Regions from separate parts of the Homo sapiens genome. Here regions 1, 2, 3 and 5 are each linked to region 4. The links come from fine-mapping of genetic effects on gene expression. A gene starts in region 4. Each other region holds a variant in brackets. All regions are shown on one strand. Distances are between the middles of the regions. Region 1 has its middle 24 kb from the start of CEP19. Region 2 has its middle 30 kb from the start of FBXO45. Region 3 overlaps FBXO45 (F-box protein 45). Region 4 holds the start of NRROS (negative regulator of reactive oxygen species). Region 5 overlaps NRROS (negative regulator of reactive oxygen species).

Evidence for each region. PIP is the estimated chance that this variant, and not a neighbour inherited with it, causes the effect.
Region 1: its variant is fine-mapped to the expression of NRROS in whole blood (TOPMed, PIP above 0.99). The same link has a PIP of 0.9 or more in blood mononuclear cells and monocytes.
Region 2: its variant is fine-mapped to the expression of NRROS in whole blood (INTERVAL, PIP above 0.99).
Region 3: its variant is fine-mapped to the expression of NRROS in cerebellar hemisphere (GTEx, PIP above 0.99). The same link has a PIP of 0.9 or more in cerebellum.
Region 5: its variant is fine-mapped to the expression of NRROS in whole blood (TOPMed, PIP above 0.99).

Annotation. Positions count from the first base shown.
Region 1 is chr3:196,685,457-196,690,559 of GRCh38, reverse strand. No RefSeq gene overlaps it. Among named protein-coding and RNA genes, the nearest start is that of CEP19, 24 kb to the left of the region's middle. The variant C/G (reference allele first, on the strand shown) is at 2,076.
Region 2 is chr3:196,596,513-196,601,615 of GRCh38, reverse strand. No RefSeq gene overlaps it. Among named protein-coding and RNA genes, the nearest start is that of FBXO45, 30 kb to the right of the region's middle. The variant A/G (reference allele first, on the strand shown) is at 2,971.
Region 3 is chr3:196,588,455-196,593,557 of GRCh38, reverse strand. It overlaps FBXO45 (F-box protein 45), which reads right to left. Exons shown (of 3, transcript NM_001105573.2): 3 at 4,499-5,103. Among named protein-coding and RNA genes, the nearest start is that of FBXO45, 22 kb to the right of the region's middle. The variant A/G (reference allele first, on the strand shown) is at 3,121.
Region 4 is chr3:196,637,313-196,642,415 of GRCh38, reverse strand. It overlaps NRROS (negative regulator of reactive oxygen species), which reads right to left and starts at 2,722. Exons shown (of 3, transcript NM_198565.3): 1 at 2,541-2,722. RefSeq lists enhancers at 368-427, 448-797, 1,966-2,085 and silencers at 2,536-2,635, 2,656-3,085.
Region 5 is chr3:196,661,766-196,666,868 of GRCh38, reverse strand. It overlaps NRROS (negative regulator of reactive oxygen species), which reads right to left. Exons shown (of 3, transcript NM_198565.3): 3 at 4,865-5,103. Among named protein-coding and RNA genes, the nearest start is that of NRROS, 25 kb to the right of the region's middle. RefSeq lists enhancers at 1-116, 117-779, 780-1,442 and a silencer at 437-731. The variant G/A (reference allele first, on the strand shown) is at 3,166.

The sequences.
Region 1 (5,103 bases), 48 kb before region 4:
GAAATCCTAGGGCCACGTATCAGTCAGAACACTAGTCCTGGACACCTGTGTTTCTCCTGCCCGCAGGCAGACCCTTCGGGAGACACTTGACCAGCGCAGGCCCTTGGGGGGCAGCTCGCCAGGTAGGACCCCTCCCTGCCAGCTGGGGTTTCCCAGCTCCCCACGCTTGAGTTCTCCTACCTAGAATCTTCTTAGGACTACTTTTAACAGCTGCAGTCCTCTCTGCTTGCTTTACGCCTCCCGAGACTCGTTGTTGCAAAAGTCTTTCTGTGCTAGAGACCCAAACTTTGAATCTCTACTCAAGCTAGTGGTTCTTAGACTTCAGCATGCACCAGACTCATCTGTGGGACTCACGATAGCGCAGATTGCTGCGTTCCACCCCCAGAATTTCTGATTCAGTAAGTCTGGGGTGGAGCCTAAGAATTTGCATTTATTTTCCTTTTTCTTTTTTTAATTTGTTTGAGATAGAGTCTCGCTCTTGTCACCCAGCCTGGAGTGCAGTGGCGCAATCTCAGCTCACTGCAACTCCCACCTCCCAGGTTTAAGCAATTATCCTGTCTCAGCCTCCTGAGTAGCTGGGATTACAGACGTGTGCCACCACGCCTGGCTAATTTTTATATTTTTAGTAGGGACAGGGTTTTGCCGTGTTGGCCAGGCTGGTCTTGAACTCCTGACCTCAGGTGATCCGCCTGCCTTGGCCTCCCAAAGTGCTGGGATTACAGGTGTGAGCCACTGCGCCTGGCCAAGAAATTGCATTTCTAACAAGCCCCCAGACCACACTTTGAGAAGCGCTGTGCGAGGCTTTTGCTTTCCTTCACTGTTGCTGTGGGTATTGGTGTTCCAACCCACAATTCCCTTTTGCTCATACTAGCTTCAGTATATTCCAGTGTCTCTCTGCTTATAGGCTTTTTGTAATAATCTTATTTCTATGGAATTCTGATATACTATGGCCTTTTTTTTTTTTTTTTTGAGACGGAGTCTTGCTCTGTCGCCCAGGCTGGAGTGCAGTGGCACGATCTCTGCTCACTGCAAGCCCCGCCTCCCAGGTTCACGCCATTCTCCTGCCTCAGCCTCCCGAGTAGCTGGGACTACAGGCGCCCGCCACCACGCCCGGCTAATTTCTTGTATTTTTAGTAGAGACGGGGTTTCACCATGTTAGCCAGGATGGTCTCGATCTCCTGACCTCGTGATCCGCCCGCCTTGGCCTCCCAATATACTGTGGCCTTCTATTTTAACTATCCTACGACCACTGGCTCTGTGGGCCAGGGTTTCACCCTCACACAGGTGCTATGCACTTAGAAGGCATTCTTTTTTTTTTTTTTTTTTTTTTTTTCAGATGGAGTTTCGCTCTTGTTGCCCAGGCTGGAGTGCAGTGGCGCCATCTCAGCTCACCACAACCTCCGCCTCCGCCTCCCGGGTTCAAGTGATTCTCCTGCCTCAGCCTCCTGAGTAGCTAGGATTATAGGCACACACCACCACACCCAGCTAATTTTGTATTTTAGTAGAGACAGGGTTTCTCCATGTTGGTCAGGCTGGTCTCGAACTCCCGACCTCAGGTGATCTGCCCGCCTCGGCCTCCCAAAGTGCTGGGATTACAGGCATGAGCCACCGTGCCTGGCCTAGAAGGCATTCTTGCTGAAGAAATTCGGCGGAGGGAAGGATTCATGCAGGCTGGAGCAACAGGGAAAGCTTCACAAAAGGAGTTGGAGTTGAGTGTGTCCTCAAAGGGAGATTTGTCTGTGTAGAAGGGAGAGGAACGAGCATTCCTGACAATGGCTCCTGGACATAGGAGCATTTGTTGGGATGACACGGAGGAACAGACTCTCACTGGAACACACATCTCTTCAATGAGGTGGTGAAATACATCATGGGAAGGAGCCTGTCTGTACCAGAACTCTTACAACCTATTAAGTGCAATTAGCCTCGCTGTAGCCAAAGGGATGTTGATTTTGCTCAGCAGATTGTTATTCAGGATCCCCAGGGACAGTGGTGCTGTGTGGGCAAAGCAGCGTGGGCAGCAGCAGCGTGGGAATGGGTGTGTTCACTCCCGAAGCCCAGGACAGATAACTCCACTT[C/G]TTGTTTCTGTAGAAAGAAGTGTGGCAAGAGCTGACCCGAGGAAGAAGCTTTGCTCAATAGGAAATGAGCTATGATGATGAAATGAGGAAGCCCTGCTGGGCTTCAGCTTGATGGTTCTGAATTATAAAGAGAAAAGAATGTGCAAAAAGCGAATATGATCGTGGAAAACTGGAAACACTCCAAATATCGAAAACTGGAAACACTCCAAATATCCATCAATAAGACATTGGTTAAGTGAATTGCGCAGTGTCCATGCTGCGGCATACTATGAAACCCTTAGGCAGAAGAAGGTAGCACTGGGCATAGTGACCTGGAAATAACTCCTAGCTACATGGTTAAGTGAGGAAAACAAGTTGCCAAATAGTATATTATAATTCTTTGATTTAAAAAATATATCAGTAAAAACTCTTGAATGAGGCCAGGTGCAGTGGCTCACACCTGTGATCCCAGGACTTTGGGAGGCCGAGGCGGGCGGATCACCTGAGGGCAGGAGTTTGAGACCAGCCTAACCAACATGTAGAAACCCCATCTCTACTAAAAATACAAAATTTAGCCGGGCGTGGTGGCGCATGCCTTTAATCCCAGCTACTCGGGAGGCTGAGGCAGGAGAATCGCTTGAGCCTGGGAGGCAGAGGTTGCAGTGAGCCGAGATCACACCATTGCACTCCAGCCTGGGCAACAAGAGCAAAACTCAGTCTCAAAACAAAAACAAAAACAAAACAAAACTCTTGAATGATGTGTGCAAAGTGACTGTTAACAGTTTGCCTGTGGAAAGAGGAGTGGGGTTAAAGTGGGAGATAGAGAGCTTAAGTGACTTTTCATTTTTTATTTTTAAAATTAAATTTCTGAATGGTTTAAATTTTTTCAAACATGCAATTGAAATAAATTCCAGCTAATGTGTACTCAGTGCCAGACACTGCTCTAGGTGTTTTAGGCCTATTATTTAATCCTCCCAACAAACCTCTGGAGATAGGTATTATTAATCTCCCCCATTTTGCAAATTAGAAAACTGAGGGCCGGAGCAGTGAAGCAGCCTGTCCAAGGTCACACACTAATAAGTGGGAGAGTTGAAATTTGAACCCACGTCATGTGGCTCCAGCATCTATGGACTGACCCTCTCACTGCAAGGCCCTCGATGGACCATGTTGGTCCATGGGATGGTAACTGTAACTGTAATAAGATTCCAGTAAAAACCGCACAAAAACTATGTGCATAGAAAAAGCAATGGGAGTCTCTATAGTTGTCCCTTTAAAACATGGATCCAAAGATTCACTCTGAATTCCAGCTCAGACAGGCTAATTCAGGCATGAAATATAGTGATTTCAGAACACAAGGAAAGCCTCACTTCTCCCTCCTACCCCAAACTGTTGGTTAACATTTCTTGAACAAGGACTAACTTTTTACCACCCAAATAGCGATCAAGCTTAATATGTGAATATTTCTGGACAAGGCGTAACTATCTCAAATTTAATTGTGTATATCTCTGATTTAATATTATCAAGGTGTAAATAGCAATCACATACAAAAAGCAGGTTGTGATAAGAGATGGGGAAAAGGCAGGAAGGAGGGACTCAGAGCATGATAGGGTACATATGGGGAAGGCAGACGGCAGCAGACTATCATATACTAGTTATCAATGATACTTCTTTACAGTGATAGAAGCCTTCCCTTTCCTAAGAACTTCCTATGTATTTACACATTTGATCTTGACAACTTATGAACTAGAGAAGACAGATTTCTTCATTTTATTGATAGGGAAAACCAGGCTCCAGGAGGCTGTGACTTGGTAAATTACCAAGTTGGAACCGGAACCCAAAACTCCTGATTCTCCCTCGAGGATTCTTGAATTACACCCAGACACTTCAGCCACATCACAACTTCACCCAGCATTAGGTCTGAGTCAGCATCAGTGTAAGAAAATGTAGCAGACAAAAGCTCCAGAGGTTAAAGGGAGCAATAGGACCCTGGCCAGGACCCACTAAAGGACATCCAGGTGGAAGGACAGAGGAAGAGCCCAGGTCAACATAGGGGATGCCAAGGTCACAGGCTGGGGGAATGGCCCCAGTGCTGACACCAAGCAGCTAGGAAACAGGGCAGAAGTTTTGATTGTGGCATCTATATGCCAGGACTTTGCTCCCACCACTTCTCCCATGCTGCCCCCATTTCTAGAATCTTCCTCCTATTTCTTTCCCTTCATTCTTTGCTTTCCTCTCCCACTCTAGCTCCAAACTCGCATTTGCAGTTGTATAAAGGGGGGAAATACATGAATTTTTAGAAATAAAATTTGTCTTACCAATGGGATTGGAATTGTAATCCCATTCTCTTAAACTCATTTTAAACCCCTACTAAATCTTTGAACCTTTTCTACTTTATCACATGGTTAGAATGGGTGAAGTTCCATTACTCAATTCTTTCATCACTTAATTAAATCCAATTAATCTATTGACTGCTTTGCTCAATCTTTTTTTTTTTTTTTTCCAGACAGAGTCTTGATCTGTCGTCCAGGCTGGAGTGCAGTGGCACAATCTCGGCTCACTGCAACCTCTGCCTCCCGGGTTCAAGCGATTCTCCTGCCTCAGCCTCCCGAGTAGCTGGGATTACAGGCATGTGCCACCACACCCGGCTAAATTTTTTGTACTTTTAATAGAGATGGGTTTCACCATGTTGGCCAGGCTGGTTTCTAACTCCTGACCTCAGGTGATCCGCCTGCCTCGGCCTCCCAAAGTGCTGGGATTACAGGCCTGAGCCACCGCGCCTGGCCAATCTGTTTAATCTTGAATTCTCTTCATATTCTTTCTATGACTAGTGCTACAGCGGTGCTGGATGTTTAAGTGATCTTCAGCTGAATTCCGCATCTCCCATGGCTTTGACTCTGTAGTCACCTCCCCTAAAAGTCATGCTGATGACCTGAAGACATGGACACGCTCCACAATCCATGCGATATAGAGGAGAAGGAAAATAAGAATGAAAACAAATACTAAACACTATCATTCCTCTAGGGTAGGGGTGTCCAATCTTTTTTCTCCC
Region 2 (5,103 bases), 41 kb after region 4:
GGATCTATAACTGTGAGTGCTCTGAGATTAGGCCACAGACTTTTGCTGTCTCAACATTTTCTCCTCTTGGGACATTTCCTTTGAGTTGATGTTCTGCCAGTTTCTACATTCAGGCTCAGCCTATGGTGCCAACCTGTCAGTGTGGTGCCAGCGAGGTGCTCTCAGAGGGAGCAAGGCAAGAAGAGGTGACGAGAGCCCCAGACACAGTCTCACACTGAGGCATGGGCAGCAGTAAATGAGGAGAGGCTGGGTGAGGACCAGAGGACCAGGAGTCCAGGCCAGGATGCGACACAGAAAAGGCAAGGGTTAGATGGGCAAGGTGTGACATCAGAGCCCGGCAAGAGGTCTCTGGCTGGGCTTTAGGGTCGCTACATTTGGCAAATACAAATAAAGAATGCCCTCACCTCACACCCTTTAGGATGGCTATTTGGGAAAACGAAAACATCAGATAGACGCGTTGGTGAGGACGTGGAGAAATGGAATCCTCGTGCACGGCTGGTGGGAGTGTAAAATGTGCAGCCAGCCTGGAAAACAGTCTGGCAGTTCCTCGAAAAATAAAACAGAGAATGGCTGTATGATTCAGCATCCCACTGCTGAGAATAGACCCACAAGAACCGAAAGCAGAGCCTCAAAGAGACCTTTGCACACCCGTGTTCACAGCAGCGTTCCTCACAGCAGCTACAGCGTGGAAGCAACCCAGAGTCCATCAACGAATGAATGGATAAGCAAAACGTGGCTCGATGGAACAGTCTTCAGTCTTACAGAGGAAAAAAATTCTGACACATCCTACAACATATGAATGAACCTTGAGGATATTACACTAAGTGAAATAAGCCAGTCACAAAAGGGCAAATACTGTGTAATTCCACTTATCTGCAGTGTTTAGAGGAGTCAAAATCACAGATACACAAAGTAGCATGGTGGTTGCCGGGGACTGGGGAGTTGGGGGAATGTAGAGTTATTGTTTAGTAGACATAAGGTTTCAATTTTACAAGATAAAAGAGCTCGAGAGGCCGGGCATGGTGGCTTGCGCCTGTATTCCCAGCCTTTGGGAGGCCGAGGCGAGAGGATCACTTGAGTCACGGAGCAGGAGACCAGCCTGGGCAACACAGCAAGACCCCATCTCTACTAAACAAATAAGCAAACAAACAAAGTTCTGGAGATGGATGGTGCTGATGGTTGCACACATCATGAATGTATTTAGTACCACTAACTGTACACTTGAAATTGGTTAAGATGGTAAACATTTTACATTATGTGTACAGTACCACAGTTTGAAAATTGGGAAAAAATGCAGTGCCCACAGTGAAATTTGAATTTTAAACACGAATAATTCTTTAGTATCATTATATTTCATGCAACATTGGGTATGTATGTATACTAAAAAACTATTCATTGATCTGAAATTTCATCAGGCATCCTGTATTATGTCTGGCAACCCGGACACAGGTCAGGGTTCTATAGTGAATGGTGATCATGATTCATACACAGGCTGAGGGAATTGTTCACAGAAGCGAGGAGAGGAGCAGAGAGGAGCTGGCTGTGAAGAGAGAGAATATATGTTCTTCCCATTTTCCTCTCCAGTCCTGGTAAATAAAACAACAGTCAAAATGTATCTACTGACTCTCCAGGCAAGTCAGCCACCCCAGCACTACTCATGTTTATCTCTTCAAGAGCACTTACTTGTTATTGGATGTTTATCTGCGACACGTCTGCCTCCCCCTTGAGGAGAAAGTAACCAAAGTTTTGAGTCAGAGATCTAGGCTGAAACAAGACTCTGAAACTTAAGGTGTGTGACTTTAGCAAGTTATTTATCGTCTGTGAGCCTCAGTGTTCCACGAATGTGAATACCATCAAGATATTCTAATAAATAAATCAAGTAATGTAGATAAAACACATAGCAGGTGCCCAGAAATATTAAGCACAACATCTCTGAAGACCTGGAGTGCAGGGACCCAGTCCTAACAGTACCCGCGCTGCAGAGTCCTAACAGTACCCGCGCTGCAGAGTCCTAATGAGAGGTGACAGCGTGCTGGCAGTCCTCAGAGCCCTCGCTTGCTCTCGGCCCGCCTCTGCCTGGGCTTCCACTTTGGCGGCACTTGAGGAGCCCTTCAGCCCCCCACTGCACTGTGGGAGCCCCTTTCTGGGCTGGCCAAGACCGGAGCCCGCTCCCTCAGCTTGCAGGGAGGTGTGGAGGGAGAGGCGCGAGCGGGAACCGGGGCTGCGTGCGGCGCTTGCGGGCCAGCTGGAATTCCGGGTAGGCGTGGGCTTGGCGGGCCCCGCACTCGGAGCAGCTGGCGGGCCCTGCTGGCCCCGGGCAATGAGGGGCTTAGCACCCGGGCCAGCGGCTGCGGAGGGTGTACTGGGTCCCCCAGCAGTGCCAGCCCACCAGCGATGTGCTCGATTTCTCACCGGGCCTTAGCTGCCTTCCCGCTCGGCAGGGCTCGGGACCCGCAGCCCGCCCTGCCTGAGCTTCCCACCCCCTCCGTGGGCTCCTGTGCGGCCCGGGCCTCCCCGACGAGCGCCACCCCCTGCTCCACCATGCCCAGTCCCATCGACCACCCAAGGGCTGAGGAGTGCGGGCGCACGCGCAGGACTGGCAGGCAGCTCCACCTGCAGCCCCAGTGCGGGATCCACTGGGCGAAGCCAGCTGGGCTCCTGAGTCTGGTGGGGACGTGGAGAACCTTTATGTCTAGCTCAGGGATTGTAAACACACCAATCCACACTCTGTATCTAGCTCAAGGTTTGTAAACACACCAATCAGCACCCTGTGTCTAGCTCAGGGTTTGTGAGTGCACCAATCGACACTCTGTATCTAGCTGCTCTGGTGGGGCCTTGGAGAACCTGTGTGTGGAAACTCCGTATCTAACTAATCTGATGGGGACGTGGAGAACCTTTGTATCTAGCTCAGGGATTGTAAACGCACCAATCAGCGCCCTGTCAAAACAGGCCTCTAGGCTCTACCAATCA[A/G]CAGGATGTGGGTGGGGCCAGATAAGAGAATAAAAGCAGGCTGCCCGAGCCAGCAGCGGCAAGCCGTTCCGGTCCCCTTCCATTGTGTGGAAGCTCTGTTCTTTGGCTTTTTGCAATAAATCTTGCTGCTGCTCACTGGGTCCACGCTGCTTTTTATGAGCTGTAACACTCACCACAAAAGTCTGCAGCTTCACTCCTGAAGCCAGTGAGACCACGAGCCCAGCGGGAGGAACAAGCAACTCCAGATGCGCCGCTTTAAGAGCTGTAACACTCACCGCGAAAGTCTGCAGCCCACCAGAAAGAAAAAACTCCGAACACATCCGAACATCAGAAGGAACAAACTCCAGACGCGCGCCCTTAAGAGCTGTAACACTCACCGCGAGGGTCCGCGGCTTCAGTCTTGAAGTCAGTGAGACCAAGAACCCACCAATTCCAGACACACTAACAGTACCCGCGCTGCATATTCCATGGAGGAGGGGCTGAGTCAAAGGAATGTGAGTGCTATATTGATTGCCTAGACTAGGGCTCTACATGTTCCATTCTTGCTGCTAGTCATGATTATGATGGGAAAAGAGGTAAGAAGACCTCAATCATAAATTGTGCACCAGCCACTTCTGATAAGGTCTTGGAAGGCAGATGCATAGAAGACAAGGCTGTGCCACTTTCCTTCACTATAGCATGCGTTTCTTTATGGGCAGGGAAGCTGCAGGCAACGGTGTTTTTTTGTTTTGTTTTGTTTTTGTTTTTGTTTTTTGAGACTGAGTCTCACTGTCGGCCGGGCTGGAGTGCAGTGGTGCGATCTTGGCTCACTGCAACCTCCGCCTCCCAGCTTCAAGCGATTCTCCTTCCTCAGCCTCCTGAGTAGCTGGGATTACAGGTGCCCACCACCATGCCCGGCTAATTTTTGTATTTTTAGTAGAGACAGGGTTTTGCCATCTTGGCCAGGCTGGTTTCGAACTCCTGACCTCAGGTAGTCCAACTGTCTCAGCCTCCCAAAGTGTTGGGATTACAGGCATGAGCCACCACGCCCGGCCAGTGAATAGTTTAACTCATCGTGGGGGTTTCTAAGTGAGGGACTTGGGTGTGATTTCATGACAACTGGTCATGAAATCAGGGGACGCCTATGTTTTTGTGCAGGGAGAGGAGGCCTGCGGGTGCGTAGGTCCTCTTAAGCCCCTCTGGGTTCCATCTTCCTACAAGAGATCCTTTTCAACCAGGCGCAGTGGCTCACGCCTGTAATCCCAGCATTTCGGGAAGCCAAGGCGTGTGGATCACCTGAGGTTGGGAGTTTGAGACCAGCCTGACCAACATGGAGAAAGCCTGTTTCTACTAAAAATACAAAATTAGCTGGGCATGGTGGCGGGCATCTGTAATCCCAGCTACTTGGGAGGCTGAGGCAGGAGAATCGCTTGAACCTGGGAGGCAGAGGTTGCAGTGAGCCGAGATTGCGCCATCGCACTCCAGCCCGGGCAACAACAGCGAAACTCCATCTCAAAAAACAAACAAAAAACCAAGAGAGATCCCTTTCTATCTGTCTCAAAACCCACAGCTCTAAGTGTCACTCTGTGAGAAGCAGAGCATTTCACTTGGGTGTCACGGCAGAGGATTTGAATTCCGTTGCCATCCTTGCCCTAAAATACTTCATTTCACCTCATCACCAAACTCCCTTCCAGGCTGGGACCCTCAGTTCATTTTAGTATTCCAAAAGTAACCAAAATTAAGCTCTGGGTGTGTAGGAAAGGAGTCCAGTGAAAGATATGAACATAATTCCCACAAGAGAGGGAGAAACTTATTACCCTCATTTTTCATGCTTAAAATAAGCAGGCAGTGAGCTGCTGGGTGTGAATGATTTCGTGTCAGCTAAACAAAAAACAGATCACCAAGCTGGTTTTCCTCTGAGTTTCAAACCTCACCATTCTTTAGTCTCTCCCTTAAAACAGAGAAGAGAAGGACGAGGTAAGAAGTACAGTTTCTTCAAGACCCAAAAGACCTGAGCTTTCTCTTCTTGCCCTTGATTTAGCAAACCAGCTCCTGCTCAGACACAGCCCCTGACAGCGCAGGTAGTGTCTGTTGCTTCTCAGGGCAGAGGCTGGGCAAGGCACCACCCTGAGTCTTACACCGAGACGCTGTGCT
Region 3 (5,103 bases), 49 kb after region 4:
AGAGTGAGACTCCGTCTCAAAAAATAAAATAAATAAAATAAAATAAAATAATCAAATCGTAACATAAAATAAACCAGAGATTTTTGCCTCCACTTGAGGCTGCTCAAATGTCATTCCTGAATGGTGGTCTCCTAGTTCAGGGGAGAAGTACCTGGAGACTTAAAAACAAACAAAAGGCTGGGTGCGTTGGCTCACACCTGTAATCCCAGCACTTTGGGAGGCCGAGGGGGGTGGATCACGAGATGAGGAGATTGAGACCATCCTGGTTAACACGGTGAAACCCCGTCTCTATTAAAAATGCAAAAAATTAGCTGGGCGTGGTGGCGGGCGCCTGTAGTCCCAGCTACTTGGGAGGCTGAGGCAGGAGAATGGCGTGAACTCGGGAGGCGGAGCTTGCAGTGAGCCGAGATCGGGCCACTGCACTCCAGCCTGGGAGAGAGTGAGACTCTGTCTCAAAAAAAACCAACAACAAAAACAAACAAACAAAACTCCACTCTACTACTCCATGGAATTTAATTTGCTAGGGCATCTTATTTATTTATTTGAGAAGGAGTTTTGCTCTTGTTGCCCAGGCTGGAGTGCAATGGCTGGATCTCAGCTCACTGCAACCTCCCCCTCCCGAGTTCAAATGATTCTCCTGCCTCAGTCTCCCGAGTAGCTGGGATAACAGGCACGCGCCACCACACCCGGCTAATTTTTGTATTTTTAGTAGAGACGGGGTTTCTCCATGCTGGTCAGGCTGGTCTCGAACTCCCGACCTCAGGTGATCCGCCTGCCTCGGCCTCCCAAAGTGCTGGGATTACAGGCGTGAGCCACCGCGCCCGGCTGCATCTTATCTTTTAAAAGCTTCCCACATATAGGCTATCTTGATTGTGATGGATATATACATACATCAAAGCTTATCAAATTGTGCACTGGTAAATAGGTATAGCTTGTTTGATGTCAGTTATTATCTCAATAAAGCTAATTTAAAGAAATAAAAAACTCCCCAGGTGATTCTAGTGGGCATCCCAAAATGAGAAGCATTGAGCTAGGTCAGCCTCAGCAACAGCCCCAGGAAGGAAGACATCTGCTCCGGAATCGCGTCGTGACCAGCAGCGCCCCCAGGACTTAGACCGCATGAGTCCTGTGCTGTTGATCCAGTGGTCTTGCCTCAAGACCAAAATGATAGAACATTGCTGAGCTTCTCCCAAAATTAAAAAGAGGCACCTAAAAATTTTGAACTGAGGCTGGGCGCGGTGGCTCACGCCTGTAATCCCAGCACTTTGGGAGGCCGAGGCGGGCAGATCACGAGGTCAAGAGATCAAGACCATCCTGGCTAACACGGTGAAACTCCATCTCTCCTAAAAATACAAAAATTAGCCGGGCGTGGTGGCGGGCGCCTGTAATCCCAGCTACTCGGGAGGCTGAGGCAGGAGAATGGCTGGAACCCGGGAGGCGGAGGTTGCAGTGAGCCGAGATCACACCACCGCACTCCAGCCTGGGCGACAGAGCGAGACTCTGTCTCCAAGAAAAAAAAAAAAAATTGAACTGCTAGGATTGTTATTCAGAGGTGTGGGGTATGTAAGGAAAAGAAAAATCCCGAAACAACAAAACACCCCCGCAGCCTTTAGTTGGCAGAGTCACGGTTTAGAAGGCAGTTGGTTGTCCTTTGGGGGTATTGCAGGCCCGCCTCCCTCGCTCTACCCGCTGGGCTGTGGAGCCCGTACGGCCAGTGAGGAACGCGGCACACCAGCAGCTCTCTCATCCAGCTGGCTGCCGATCTCCTTAACTCCAGGCTCACTAGTTCCAACTGCCTTTTCTGTATTTCCACCTCCGATTTAACATGTTCAAAACCGCACTCGTTACCCTCACCCCCCAATCTTTTTTTTTGAGACAGAGTCTCGCTCTGTCACCCAGGCTGGAGTGCAATGGCGCGATCTCGGCTCACTGCAAGCTCCGCCTCCTGGGTTCCCGCCATTCTCCTGCCTCAGCCTCCCGAGTAGCTGGGATTACAGGCACCTGCCACCACAACCGACTAATTTTTGTATTTTTAGTAGAGGCGGGGTTTCACCACGTTGGCCAGGCTGGTCTCGAACTCCTGGCCTCAGGTGATCTGCCCACCTCAGCCTCCCAAAGTGCTGGGATGACAGATGTGAGCCACTGCGCTCGGCCCCTCACCTCCCAATCTATTCCTCCTTTTCAATACCCTTTCTTAATAAGCAGTACCTTATAAATGTCTGCACCAAAAAGCTTCTCACTCTTGACATACAAATGGTGTCCACATGTGTTCCTGCATTCTCTTAAATACATCCCTCCTCCATCTTTAGTCACCTTAGTTTAGGTCCTCATCATTTTCTGCCTAGACCTCCTGACTCCCACCTTTCAGATATTGGTTTTTGTAGCTAATCATGCCCCTGCTGAAAACTTTTGAATGGCTTCCCCCATGAAAAAATAGACAAAACCCAAACTATTTGGTATGGCAATTATAATCCAGACGCAATTTCCCTGTTCCATGCCCTCCCCCACCACTTGTCCAGCATGGTTCCAGACATAGCGGACCTATCTGTGCCTCCGTATCATAGCACGTCCTATCCCACTTGCCTGGAACAGTGGATTTATCCTCATTAGCTCCCACCTACTATCTTCTAAGCTCAGCTTAAACATCGCCCCAGGTTAACTATTCCCTCTCCTATGCCACCCTGGACCTCACCTGTAATTTCGTTAAAGCAGTTACCTCAGTTTCACAGTAGTCTGTTTCCACATTTGCTTTCACAGAAGCTTGTCAGCAACTTCGATTTTTCCTTCTCATCTTTCCATCTCTAGTACCTGGTAAAAGCCTGCTAGATAACGGATGTTAGAAAATAATTTGATGAATGATCTTTCCTGCCTTTTTCATTCTGTCTACATTACCAAGTGGATGACTAGTAGCTGGGTGGGCAGGGAGATCCTTCAAAATTTCAGAAGCTCAACTATGGCCATGTAAAACCTAGAGTGGCCTCCGTGACTCCGTCGGCACTGAAGTTCCTGTAGGCTGTGCTCAGAAGGGTGGATTGCGCTGGGCTTTGCCACCAGTCTCTGCTCAGAGCAGTGTCTTTGCTACCAACATGTCTTTTAGCAAAGTAACCATCTGTCCGTGCT[A/G]TTCTGGGCAATTGGATCATGAACTACATCACTCTTTGGCCTACTGAGGGGTTAGAGATGTCATCAACAACTCTCATTGCAACCTTAAGCCTCCTTTCCTTCCAAGGTGAAGATGACCAACAAGGGGGCACAGATCAATCATATGCTCTTTAAACATGGGTTGGGAATATGAACAAGTTAGCTATATTAAAATAAACAAAGATATCTGGTCTGTTCCCACTACAATATGCCTCTAATGAATCTAACTTGAGACGCTAGAATTTTAATACATTATTTCAGGGAGACTTTCTTAAGGGAGCTATGACCTCAAAACCATTACTTGATTTTATCCCCATTTTATTTATACAGGAAAGGGGGCAGAAATATAACATGGTGTACAAGTATCATATCATATCATAGACAGGACTTGACTTCTCTAATCTTTTCTTAATGTTTTCCTGCCTTAAACAGAAATTAAACACTATCAACAGGGTGACCTAAGGAAACTCCCCAAATGATTCCTACTTCTTGAGCCACTCATCATGAAATCCTACATACAAAAGCTGAATAACAATCTTAAATCTTAAAGGGCTACTTCTTTCAGCAAACTATTATTCTGAAGACTAGAGAACATGTTGCTCTCAACAGTATTTTAGTGAACACATTAAATAAGAAGCAAACAGTTCGAGGGAGGATCCAAAAAAGAAATCAGGACAACAGACTGGTAAAGCTGTCTCTGGCGTCTCTTTCCACTAAACAAAGCGGCAAATACAGAACATTTACACCTATTTTTCTTTTATAAAATTTAAATGCTTTGGGCTGGGCACGGTGGCTCATGCCTGTAATCCCAGCACTTTGGGAGGCCGAGGCACACGGATCACCTGAGGCAGGGGTTGCAATGAGCCGAGAGCACATCAACTGCTCTCCAGCCTGGGTGACAGAGCAAGACTTTGTCTCAAAAAAAAAAAAAAAAAAAAAAAAAAAAAAAAAAAAAAAAAAAAAATTAAAATGCTTTGAACTTTAACATATCAGCCAACTTGTTTAGCAACATCATCAACTGATTCTCTTTTAAGCTTTTGGATCACAGGAGCCGTGTATTCAGCCAGTTCAGGAATAGCATGCCTGTCTCTCATAATTCTTGGCAAACAACTGCATTATCAAACAAATGTCAGCAGGAGGGTGGGGTGGGGGGCGGTAGAGGCAATTGGGAAATAAGACCCTAGTGAATTACTGTTCTCTGTCCACTTTCCATTCTAAACATGGGGAATGTGGATTCTATTATTAAAGCCATGGAATTTATAGGTAAATTCCATCACCACCTCTGGCTATTAAGGCACCCCAATTTTTCTTTCTAACCAATGTGTAAAAAATGTCTTTAAATGTAAGCAATCACAGGTGGTTAATGTTTAACTTTTTATTAAGAAACTAAGGCAAAACAACAGAATTCCAAAAAATAAAGATACAGAATTCTAATTTAAATTCTAAACAAATATAAAAATCAGAGTTTACCAGTATTTTTGAGTAGAGGGGAGTGGCTAAATGCATTCACAGTAATTATTTCTTCCTTACCAGCCTCAAGTTTGCAACCCTTTCCTTCCTGCTTCACTGGGACTAGAACAGAATTTCTCATTCATCTTTTGCTACTATAATTTTTGCTTCTATAGTCTAAAACTTCAGAGGAGCTTTTGTCTTTCTCCGCAGTTCTTTCTCTGTTCCTTCAGCAAATATGTGAGCACCTGCCTATTGGGCTTACATGTTGTGGCACAAAGATGAGTCCGTTAGAGATCCTGTCCCAGTTTAGGGGCGATATGACACCAATAAATAATCAATAAATAATTTTAAACAAGGTATAAATAAATACAGCATGAGTCAACTATAGATATATAAAACTAGGGAAATTTCAAGGAGAGATTACATTCAGCTAGAGAAACTGAGGAATGTTTTTGAGGACAGCATTTGGGCTGGGTGTGGGCTGTTCCTAATAAAGGCTTCCAAGTGGTCCTG
Region 4 (5,103 bases):
AGCTGAGGAAAGGAGACAGATGGATTCCTGGCAATGCCATTTGAGCATCTGGACTCAGCCATGCCTGAAACTATTGCCCATACACTTTTCAGTTATTTGAAACAATAAATCCTTTTTTTTTTTCTTTTTTGCCGAAGCATATTTACGTTGGTTTTTTGTCATTTGCTACCAAACCAATCTATCTAAGAATCTGATTCTTGAACTCGGGTTTATTGTTGCACGTGAGGCTTATAAGAGCTAAGATCCAAGCACTGATGTCCTTTTTCCTTCACGTCTCTGAGCTTTCAGAAATCATCACCTAACCTAGCCCTGAGCCCCATCACAGAATGACCACATGACATTTGCTTCATGATGAAGTTGAGAAAAATGGTTTGGGAGGAAAGTGAGTATAATAAAGAAGTTCCACCAAAGGCAAAAACATGACAAATGTTTGTCACTGATGTGCGATGACACATCAACAAGCATCAGTGAGCACAGACATCTGTAAGTGTGTCATACACACAGCATGTCCTAAGAAAGACAGTGTTTTCAGTCGTGGTTGAAAGTCCACCCTCTCCTGACTTCTGAGGCTCTAAAATGGATCTGCGCCTGATGTGAGGGACAGTCATTGTCCATACGAGAGTCTGGTGCACACTGTGCAGTGTGGACGCACACCGCAGCCAGAATGCAGGTTGTCATCAGTACTAGCATCTCTCTTCCAAAAGAGTCAAGACTGGAGACAGACAGGTCAATGTACTCTTAATGCACACCCCAGAACAAAGATACTAGGCGTCTGCTCTCTGTTTTGGAGTCTACCAGGTATGTCTCATCATCAAAGAGCAGGAACTCTTGGATGATGAATTTAAAAACTATAAGAGAATGTGTTTTCATGAAGTTCCCATGAGGGCACTCATTACATGAAAGCTGGGGGCGGTGACTCACGCCCACACTCCCAGCACTTTGGGAGGCCAAGGCAGGAGGATTGCTTGAGCCCAGGAGTTTGAGACCAGCCTGGGCAACACAGCAAGATCCTGTGTCTACAAAAAAATTTTAAAAATTAGCTGGCATGGTGGTGTGCACCTGTTGTCCTAGCTCCTCAGGTGACTGAAGCAGGAGCATTATTTGAGCCCAAGAGTTTGAGGCTGCAGTGATCTGTGATCGTGCCACAGAACTCCAGTCTGGGCAACAGAGCAAGAGCCTGTCTCTAAAAATAAATAAATAAATATATATATTTTTAAAAAGTGCCTTCTTTGTGAAGCTGAGTTTGTTTTGTTTTGTTTTGTTTTGTTTTGTTTTTTTAACCTAAAGGCAGGAGTTAAGGTTTTTTCCTGGGCCCATGATTCTATAATCTCCTTTAGGGACTCTCGGGCACACACACACAAACCTAAGAGGTGTGTGAGGAGAATAAATACGTATTGTAAATGTAAAGCCCAGCAAACCCTCAGCATCCACAGAACAGTCTGTGTGTCACAGCCGGCAGGTGAGGAGCACACAGGAAAGCATGGAGGGCCACAGACGCTGAATGTTTCTAGCACCCAGACTCCTAACGGGCTGTGCCCATCATGAAGAAGCCTCCGGTGGGGTCCCCTCAGCCCCTAGGGAAGCACAGCAGCCCCGACCAGCCCTGTCCGGAGAGGCTCCATTCCTAGGACCCCCGATCCGGCCTCCTCCAGTCGCAGCCACCAACTGGCACGTGTCCACCTTCTCTCAGAGGCAGCACAAAGCCACACCAGTGGCTCCTTACTTCTTTCCGTCTAGCTCCTGGGTACGTGGGGAAGTACGCTGACCCCTTCAGAAGCCGGCCCACATGCAGGGGCCACGAGGGCTACGGAAGAGCGTCCGAGTCTTCGTCGCCCTCCTGTTAGTCTCCCTCTGATAAGCCATGGATCTAAGTCTAGGCTAAGATCCAAGTCACAGAGCCCCAGTGAATCTCCCAAGGACAAACGTTCTGTGGGAGAAGGGGCTTTGCACATTTTCACAGCTGTATCCCCAGGGCCTTGGACAGGCCTGGCACGTGGACGGCATCTGTGATAGGTGTTGCTGTTAACCAGTCTTAGTGTCTTCATCTATGAGATAGTGGTTCTCAATCCACGTTGTGGGACAGGAAAGGAGAGCCCAGTGCTCAGCATGCTGAGTGTGCACAGAGCGGTCTCATCATATCCAGTCGCCCAGCCCAGGGAGGGAGCATCTCTGTTCCCATTTTGCAGATGAGAAAACTGAGGCTCAGAAACCTTAACTGTCTGCTCACATGCTCCCTGCAGAGCCAGGACTCAAACCCACGTCTGAATCTGAAGCCCTCGTGGTTTCCACTACGTCGCACCACCTTTCTCAGCTCTAAGTGCTCCTGGAGGGAGGTATTTCCACCTCCACCCAGAGCTGCAGCCCCCACGCCCAGCACAAAAGCGGCGGCGCTTGGACGCAGCAAGCCACAGCTTCCTCGTGAGCCCTGAGCTGCGGGCCGCGGACGCTGACCTCCTACCACCCAACCTCGCTCGAGCTCGCCCACCTGGAGAAGGGCCCCGGCTGTGCCCCGGGGACGCCCCCACGCGGGAAATACTCACGGCTCCCGCAGGCGCAGGCGGCTGCGCGGGGCGCATCGTCTCCGGGGGCTCCGGCCTCCTCGAGAGCAGCCGAACGCGGGGCTGGGCTACCTCCTTGCTGTGGGGCATCAGATTATTTTAGCACCAGCGGAAGGAACGGACGGAAACTGAAGTCACATGGAGAGCGGGCTGCTCGGCGACTCAGCACAGGCTCACTCAGACCCGGCCTCTTAGAGGGAAGCGCGGCGCGGGCGCGGGGGTGGGGCGGGCCGGGGGAGCGGGGCCCGAACACCTGCCGGCCTAGCGGCCGAGCAGCGGGGATGTTTAGACGATCTTCCAGCAATGCGACCGAGGCTCCCCCGGCTTTCTTGCGTTGGTGCCTTGGCAGGGCTGGGGGCGGCCAGCTAGGGGCCCCTTGCCTATGAGGTCTGCTGACCCAGAAACTTTGCTACGAGCTTCCAGCCAAGGACCAAGCTGAGGCCGACTTTGGGAACGGCAGCACCGTGGTAAAGAGGCACAGCCTGTCGTCTGGCAGGGTCAGCCGCTCAGCCAGTCTGTCTTCTTATCCACTCAGCCGGTCCTTGTGGATCATCTCCTTTACGGACCCTGTGTTAGAAAGAAGGGGAATTGCTTTGTCGAGGACTGTCAGAGAGTGCCAAGAGCTTCTTGATCTTAGACTGCGCGGATGGGTTTTTTTGTACCTGATGTGTACAAAGTTCCCTGCCAGCTCTTGCCAAGAATTCAAAGGAGTAAGAATAATTGATCATATAGCCATCATTGAAGCAGCGCCAGACACTGTGCTAAGAGCTTCATATGCATTACCCCAGCGCTCCTGTTCTCGAGGAACTACTGTCGTCTAGAGAAGGTGAAATATTTACAGTGCCTGCTGCGTGTGGAGTGACGTGGACCACCATAGTCGGGGGCTCAGACAAGGGGCCTCCAGTTCTGATCTCTCTCACTCCCCTTCAAATCTGAAACGTTGAACTGTCCTGCAGGATTGGGTCACCTCTCTTATAGCCTGTGATTTGGGATTGTGTGTAGCATTGTCCATCCTAAGAGAACAGGAGCCAAGTCCTTTTCACTCCAAACATCTGGCACATTGTCTCTGCTTTCTACAATATTCACTCATGGCCGGGCACAGAGGCTCAGGCTTGTAATCCTAGCATTTTGGCAGACCAAGGCAGGTGGACCGCCTGAGTGCAAGACCAGCCTGGGCAACATACTGAGACTCCATATGTACAAAAAATTTAAAACTTAGCCAGACCTGGTGGCACGCACCTGTAGTCCCAGCTATTTGGGAGGCTGAGGTGGGAGGATCACCTGAGCACAGGGAGGTTGAGGCTGCAGTGAGCCAAGATCACGCCATTGCACTTCAGCCTGTGTGATAGAGTGTGACTCCGTCTTTAAAAAAATAAAAATAATTTTAAAAATAAAATATTATCTCATAATGGTAATAACAATCACACCAATGAAAAAGCTAAATAAAGATCAAATTGTTGCAAACCCAGGTGCTTGATTCAGGCCTCTTTCTCTCTTGTATGCACATTCTCTACTTCATGTCTTTTGTGTCTACCAATCAGTTGGTAACTCCCCAATTTTAATTTCTAGCTCCAACATTCTCTTCCACGAGAGAAGATCCAGACTTGCATTTTTAACTGTCTACTGGTCAATCAACTGCTACATGTCCCAGAGTCACCATAACATGATGTATCCCAAACTCAACTCTCTCTCTTTTTTTTTGAGACAGTCTTGCTCTGTCACCCAGGCTGGAGCAGTGGCGCAATCTCAGCTCACTGCAACCTCTGCCTCCCAGGTTCAAGTGATTCTCCTGCCTCAACCTCCCAAGTAGCTGGAATTACAGGCGCCCACCACCACGCCCAGCTAATTTTTGTGTTTTTAGTAGAGATGGGATTTCACCATGTTGGCCAGGGTGGTCTCAAACTCCTGACCTCAGGTGATCCGCCCACCTCAGTCTCAGAGTCCTGGGATTACAGGCATGAGCCACTGTGCCTGGCCCCAAACTCAACTCTTATCCTTTGTCCCAGCAGTTTCTCTCCTGTATGGCTGTCACACTTTACGGTATGTTTCAGCCCAGGCAGTCCAGCCCTCACAGACTTCATCCTTCATATCTAATTGACCCCCAATTCCTGCTGATTCTAACTCAGAAATGTTTCTGGAATCCAACCTGCTTTTCATCCTTAGGCTGTTGCCCTGGGTCTAGACCTCATCAGCTCATGTCTGGACCACTTTCATAGCCTCCTGAAACTCGCTCCCTGCCCCTAATCTCATCCCTGTCCAATGTCAACTCCACCTAGCTGCCACGGGCATCTTTCTAAAATGTGTATTGGGTCATCTCACTCTCTGCTTAAAGCCCTTTTACAGGGTTCAGCAGGTTCAAGGGTTCCTCATGAATGCCTAAAGACTGGCAGGTGGGATCCAGGTACCCCATTCCCTCCACATCCCAAGAATTCTACTTTGATATGTTTTATACATTGGGAGATTCTCTATAGAATTTCTTTTGAGAAAGGCAGCTGCTACCCCTAAAAAAAAAATCTAGTAAACCAATGGTCTTTTTTTTTTCTTT
Region 5 (5,103 bases), 24 kb before region 4:
ATGTGCCACCACGCCGGGTAATTTTTTGTATTTTTAGTGGAGACGGGGTTTCGCCATGTTGGGCAGGCTGGTCTCAAACTCCTGACCTCAGGTGATCCGCCTGCTTCAGCCTTCCAGAGTGCTGGGATTATAGGCATGAGCCACTGCACCCGGCCGAGAAGGATTTTTTTAAATAACACTTTTTTTTTCCCCAGCTCCATCATCTGTTTGCTTTGGTCATTGCAACACCCACACTCTTTTAAAGAAGGTCTCCAAGGCTGGAAACTTCTCCCACTCTAATTTGGGTAAAATATGAATATGTTTGTAACACACTGAGGCGTGCCATCTTCCTCATGTCCACCTTCTTCCTCATGTCCACGCATGGACTCCATGGAAATCAGGGGACTCCATCTTCGGGAGATTTGCTTTCCTAGCGCTGGCCGCGCATCCTTAGCACTCTGTGGCTCCCTGACACAAGTGCTGGAATCTCTCGGGCTCAGGATTACTAAATGAGTAGCCAGCTGCGTCATGCAGGGACCCAGCAGGAACCAGATGGCACGTTCAAACAAGGACAAGTCAGGAGGATTTACAAAGGGACGATTCACAAAGCGGTGGAGAGGGGAGGGCAAACCGCAAAGGATAATGCAATTACACGAGCTGGTGAGGCAGAGCTGTTACCCATGCTAGGCCCAGAGAAGAGAGCCAGGGGAGTGAGTGGTTCCTAGATACCTAAGGCAGAGATTCGTGTGCAAAGAGCCGCCTTGAGACGAGTGTGAGTTTGGTTGATAGGTGCAGCCAGTTTGAGACAAATCTACAGGGAGGAGTCAGGAGAATAAATACTCTGACCTCACTTTCTTCCTCCCCTGTGATTTGCCAAACCTCCTTCTTAGCCAAATACCACTGGAAGCCAAAGGGCAAGGGAGCCCATTGAGGCCAGCCTCCTGGGGCAGGGTGGAAAAGAGTGGGAAGTAGATCTGGAGGGGCAAATGGAAGTTATCTGGCACATTAAATAAATAAAAAGTGATATGACCAGTGATACAAACCAAGGATTAGAGTTTGTCCAATTGCTTGCAACTGGGGTCGTTTAAAAAAAGAAATCAGCAGGCGCCGTGGCTCAGCCTGTCATCCCAGCACTGTGGGAGGCCGAGGCGGGCGGATCACAAGGTCAGGAGTTCGAGGCCGGCCTGGCCAACATGGTGAAACCCCATCTCTACTAAAAATACAAAAATTAGCTGGGCGTGGTGGCAGGCACCTGTCATCCCAGCTACTCAGGAGGCTGAGGCAGGAGAATCGCTTGAACCCGGGAGGCGGAGTTTGCAGTGAGCCGAGATTGCGCCATTGCACTCCAGCCTGGGTGACAGAGCAAGACTCCATCTCAAAAAAAGAAAGAACGGAAAAAAATCAATTGATCCCTAACTTAAATGCCTCCAGAAAAACCTTCAGCTTTTGTTTTATGACTGGATTTCCAAAATCTAAGTTACTGTTACTCATGTTCACAGACCAGTCTCTGACATGATTTATCTGTGATTCTGAATATCCTCCTGTGTGAATATTCTGGCATGTGGCAACCGGAAATGGCCCCCTACTGCCCACCCACTGAGGAAGAACCACGTGGTGCCCCACCTGGCTGAATGGGAGCTCTTAGGCAGACACCATTCTGGCCCCACCGAAGAACTCTGGTAACAGGCTTTGTGGGTCCTTCCCTCGCCAGTAGGTTCTCCTATGGGTCCAGGTCGGAGTGGGAGAAGCAGGGAAAGGGGACAGAATTTGCTGGGGGAACCATAGCTGAGCACTGAAGGCAGAAAGCACCTTCCCTATGTAACTTTCCGCATACTGAGAGAAACCTAGAAAATCATCCTTTTTTTTTTGAGACGGAATTTTGTCTTGTCGACCAGGCTGGACTACAGTGGCGCCATCTCTGCTCACTGCAACCTCCGCCTCCCAGGTTCAAGCGATTCTCCTGCCTCAGCCTCCCGAGTAGCTGGGACTACAGGCACACGCCACCACGCCCAGCTAATTTTTGTATTTTTAGTAGAGATGGGGTTTCACCATATTGGCCAGGCGGGTCTCGAACTCCTGACCTCAGGTGATCCACCCACCTCAGCTTCCCAAAGTGCTGGGATTATAGGCATGAGCCACCGCACCCGGCAGGAAATCACCTTTGGATCCTTGTGATGGAAAACACTAGGAAGGAAAGCCCACAGCCTTCTAAAGTCACAGTCACAGGCAGGGCTGGGGCTCAATTTGTCATCCTCCCGGGCTGGACCCCAAGAACAGAAAGAGTGGGTGGTCAGCTACATGGTGTGACTTGAGGGGCTTCAAAAGTCCTGCTGAACCCCAAACTATCTCCCCGACTGCCCTGAGTTTCTGTCTGAAGTTTCCATCATTTGAGTCATTTCTTTGTGCTAAGAATTTGCTTCCAGAAGTTGCCTGCTAAAATGTACACGCTGCCTGGGCGCGGTGGCTCACGCCTGTAATCCCAACACTTTGGGAGGCCACAGTGGGCGGATCACCCTGAGGCCAGGAGTTCAAGACCAGCCTGGCCAACATGGTGAAACCGTGTCTCTACTAAAAATACAAAAATTAGCTGGGTGTGGTGGCGGGCGCCTGTAGTCCCAGCTATTCAGGAGGCTGAGGCAGGAGAATCGCTTGAACCTGGGAGGCAGAGGTTGCAGTGAGCAGAGATCACGCCACTGCACTCCAGCCTGGGCAACAAAGCGAGACTCAGGCTAATAAATAAATAAATAAATAAATAAATAAATAAATAAATAAAATGTACATGCAGCCATAAAAGGATACGGGACTTACTTTTCATTCATTTTGTTTGCTCAACGTCTCACTTCCTTTCTTAGGTTTCAAGAACTCTGCCCCCTCATAAGAATTTGGAGGACACGGAGCCTATCTTCTGCCATAGACACCTCGCCAAGGGGTACAGCATTGCCGTGCCAGTCCTTCTTGTACTCAGGGCAGGGGCACATGACCACGGTCAGGAGCTGGCGATGCAGCAGAATTTGGGGAGCATTTATTTCAGCAGAAGGTGGCAGGGGTGGCTGCAGCCATGCTCCCACAGTTACTGCTCATGGCATGGTTTGGGCTGAGGTCAGGAGTTCGAGACCAGCTGGTCCCAATTGCTACACAGCATCTTCTGTTCCTGCCCATTTTCCAAGCCTGTTCCTCAGCCTTCCC[G/A]AGAGTCCAGAGCTTACTAATATTCTCTTACTAAATGCGTAAGCTACTTAAATCAGACAGAACCGTCTTCAGTTGCATGAGACTAAGAACACTGATGGATACCAGAGGTGACGCATTAACTCAAGAGAAGCCGTCAGTGCACCAGCCACAGATAGATGCATTTGTCTAATTAGCTAGTGTTCACATTAGGAAACAGCAGGACCCCAGAGAAGGGTTTTGTTGATGGGGAGAGGAAATCAGGAGAGTCTGGTCTGATGTTGCGTTGGCTGATGGGACTTGCCCGGAAGGCTTCAAGGCAACCTGAGAGACATCCACGACACTAGGCTGGGCGCAGTGCAGGAGGGAACGGTGGGGTCATAGCAAGGGCAAAGCCCAACAGGACCTGCCGCTAACGCTACTGAATGTGGGGCCTGAGATGGCAAAGCCTAACAGGACCTGCCGCTAACGCTACTGAATGTGGGGCCTGAGATGGCCTTGTTCAAACCTCTGTAGAGCATCCAAGGGAAGTTTCTGCTGTGTCAGAGTAAGACCACTGATTTTATCTCTTTGATTTGCCTAAATATTTCTGCTGACAGTTAGTCTGCATGGTAATAGCTATCAGTTTGTGGGATTTCTAGCCTCTCTCCCTCCCCATCCCTCCCCCATTGCGTTTAATTCCTTTATGATTTAGTAAGCAGGGATTAAAAACTTTGAGGACAGTGTAAATTCTAAACTACCAGAGGACGGGGGCTGTGTCCTTGTTATCTTTTCTCTCAGAGAGGAGCACAGACATTGTTCGTTAGTCATTGAACAGAGGGAGAAGGGAAGCTAAGAATCTAGTGAATACAGATACTGAACATCTGCTATGAAGTTGTAAGCAATTTTTTGTGAAGAGTTAGGAGGGTTCACAAGTGAGCAGAATTCATTCCTTTCTGCATTCCTCTTTACTTCCCTTCAGAACGAGGACTGTCTCTGGCAGTCGGCTTACTGACTGGATAAACTCGGGGCCAGTTATTATTCTCTTGGTTTCTCCATGGAAGAGTCATGTCTGTCTGCCAGAGACTCCGGGTATGAAGCCAGGGCACCTGGAGAGGGCCCAGCTAGAGGTCCATTATTTTATTTATTTGTTTATTTTTTGAGACGGGGTCTTGCTCCATCGCCCAGGCTGGGGTGCAGTGGTGTGATCTCGGTTCACTGCAACCTCCGCCTCCTGGGTTCAAGCAATTCTCCTGTCTCAGCCTCCCAAGTAGCTGGGATTACAGGCGCCCGCCACCACACCCGGCTAATTTCTGTATTTTTAGTAGAGACGGGGTTTCACCATGTTCGCCAAGCTGGTCTCGAACTCCTGACCTCAGGTGACCCGCCTCAGCCTCCCAAAGTGCTAGGATCACAGGACCGTTCTGACGGCGGTGGCCAGTCACGCAGCAGGTGAGAGGCCTCATCTTATGATCTTATGTCAGACCCTCCAGCTGTGCTTTGAAATGCTTTGTTGTCGTCGTCCTGCTATGAAATCCTTGTGTCGTCGTCCTGCTATGAAATCCTTGTCCCTGTTGAGTCCCCAGGGCACTGACTCACCATCTCTAGCACCTGCTCTTGGAGTTCTTTTTCCAGTAGGTTGCATTGAATTGCTACCCTCGGCTCCATGGATGTCACCAAGGGGAGGACACTACAAAATAATCCAAGGGAAACCAAGGAACAATAAAAAAAAACACAAGCTGCATTTAATTTAAAAAATATTTATGAGACACGTTGCCTTTTATTTCTGAAAAAGTCACTTAATAAATATTTTACCAAGATAATGAGGATGAATTATAATGATGGAAAAAGAACTTGGGCGGTGGTGGGGGCGGGGGTGGGGTGGGCGATGAGGAATGGAAACATATTAAATTTTAATTGAAACTTCAATTCGTCAGACTTGGCCTCTGCATCACATCTTGAAAGCTGGCAGAGAAAGTGTCC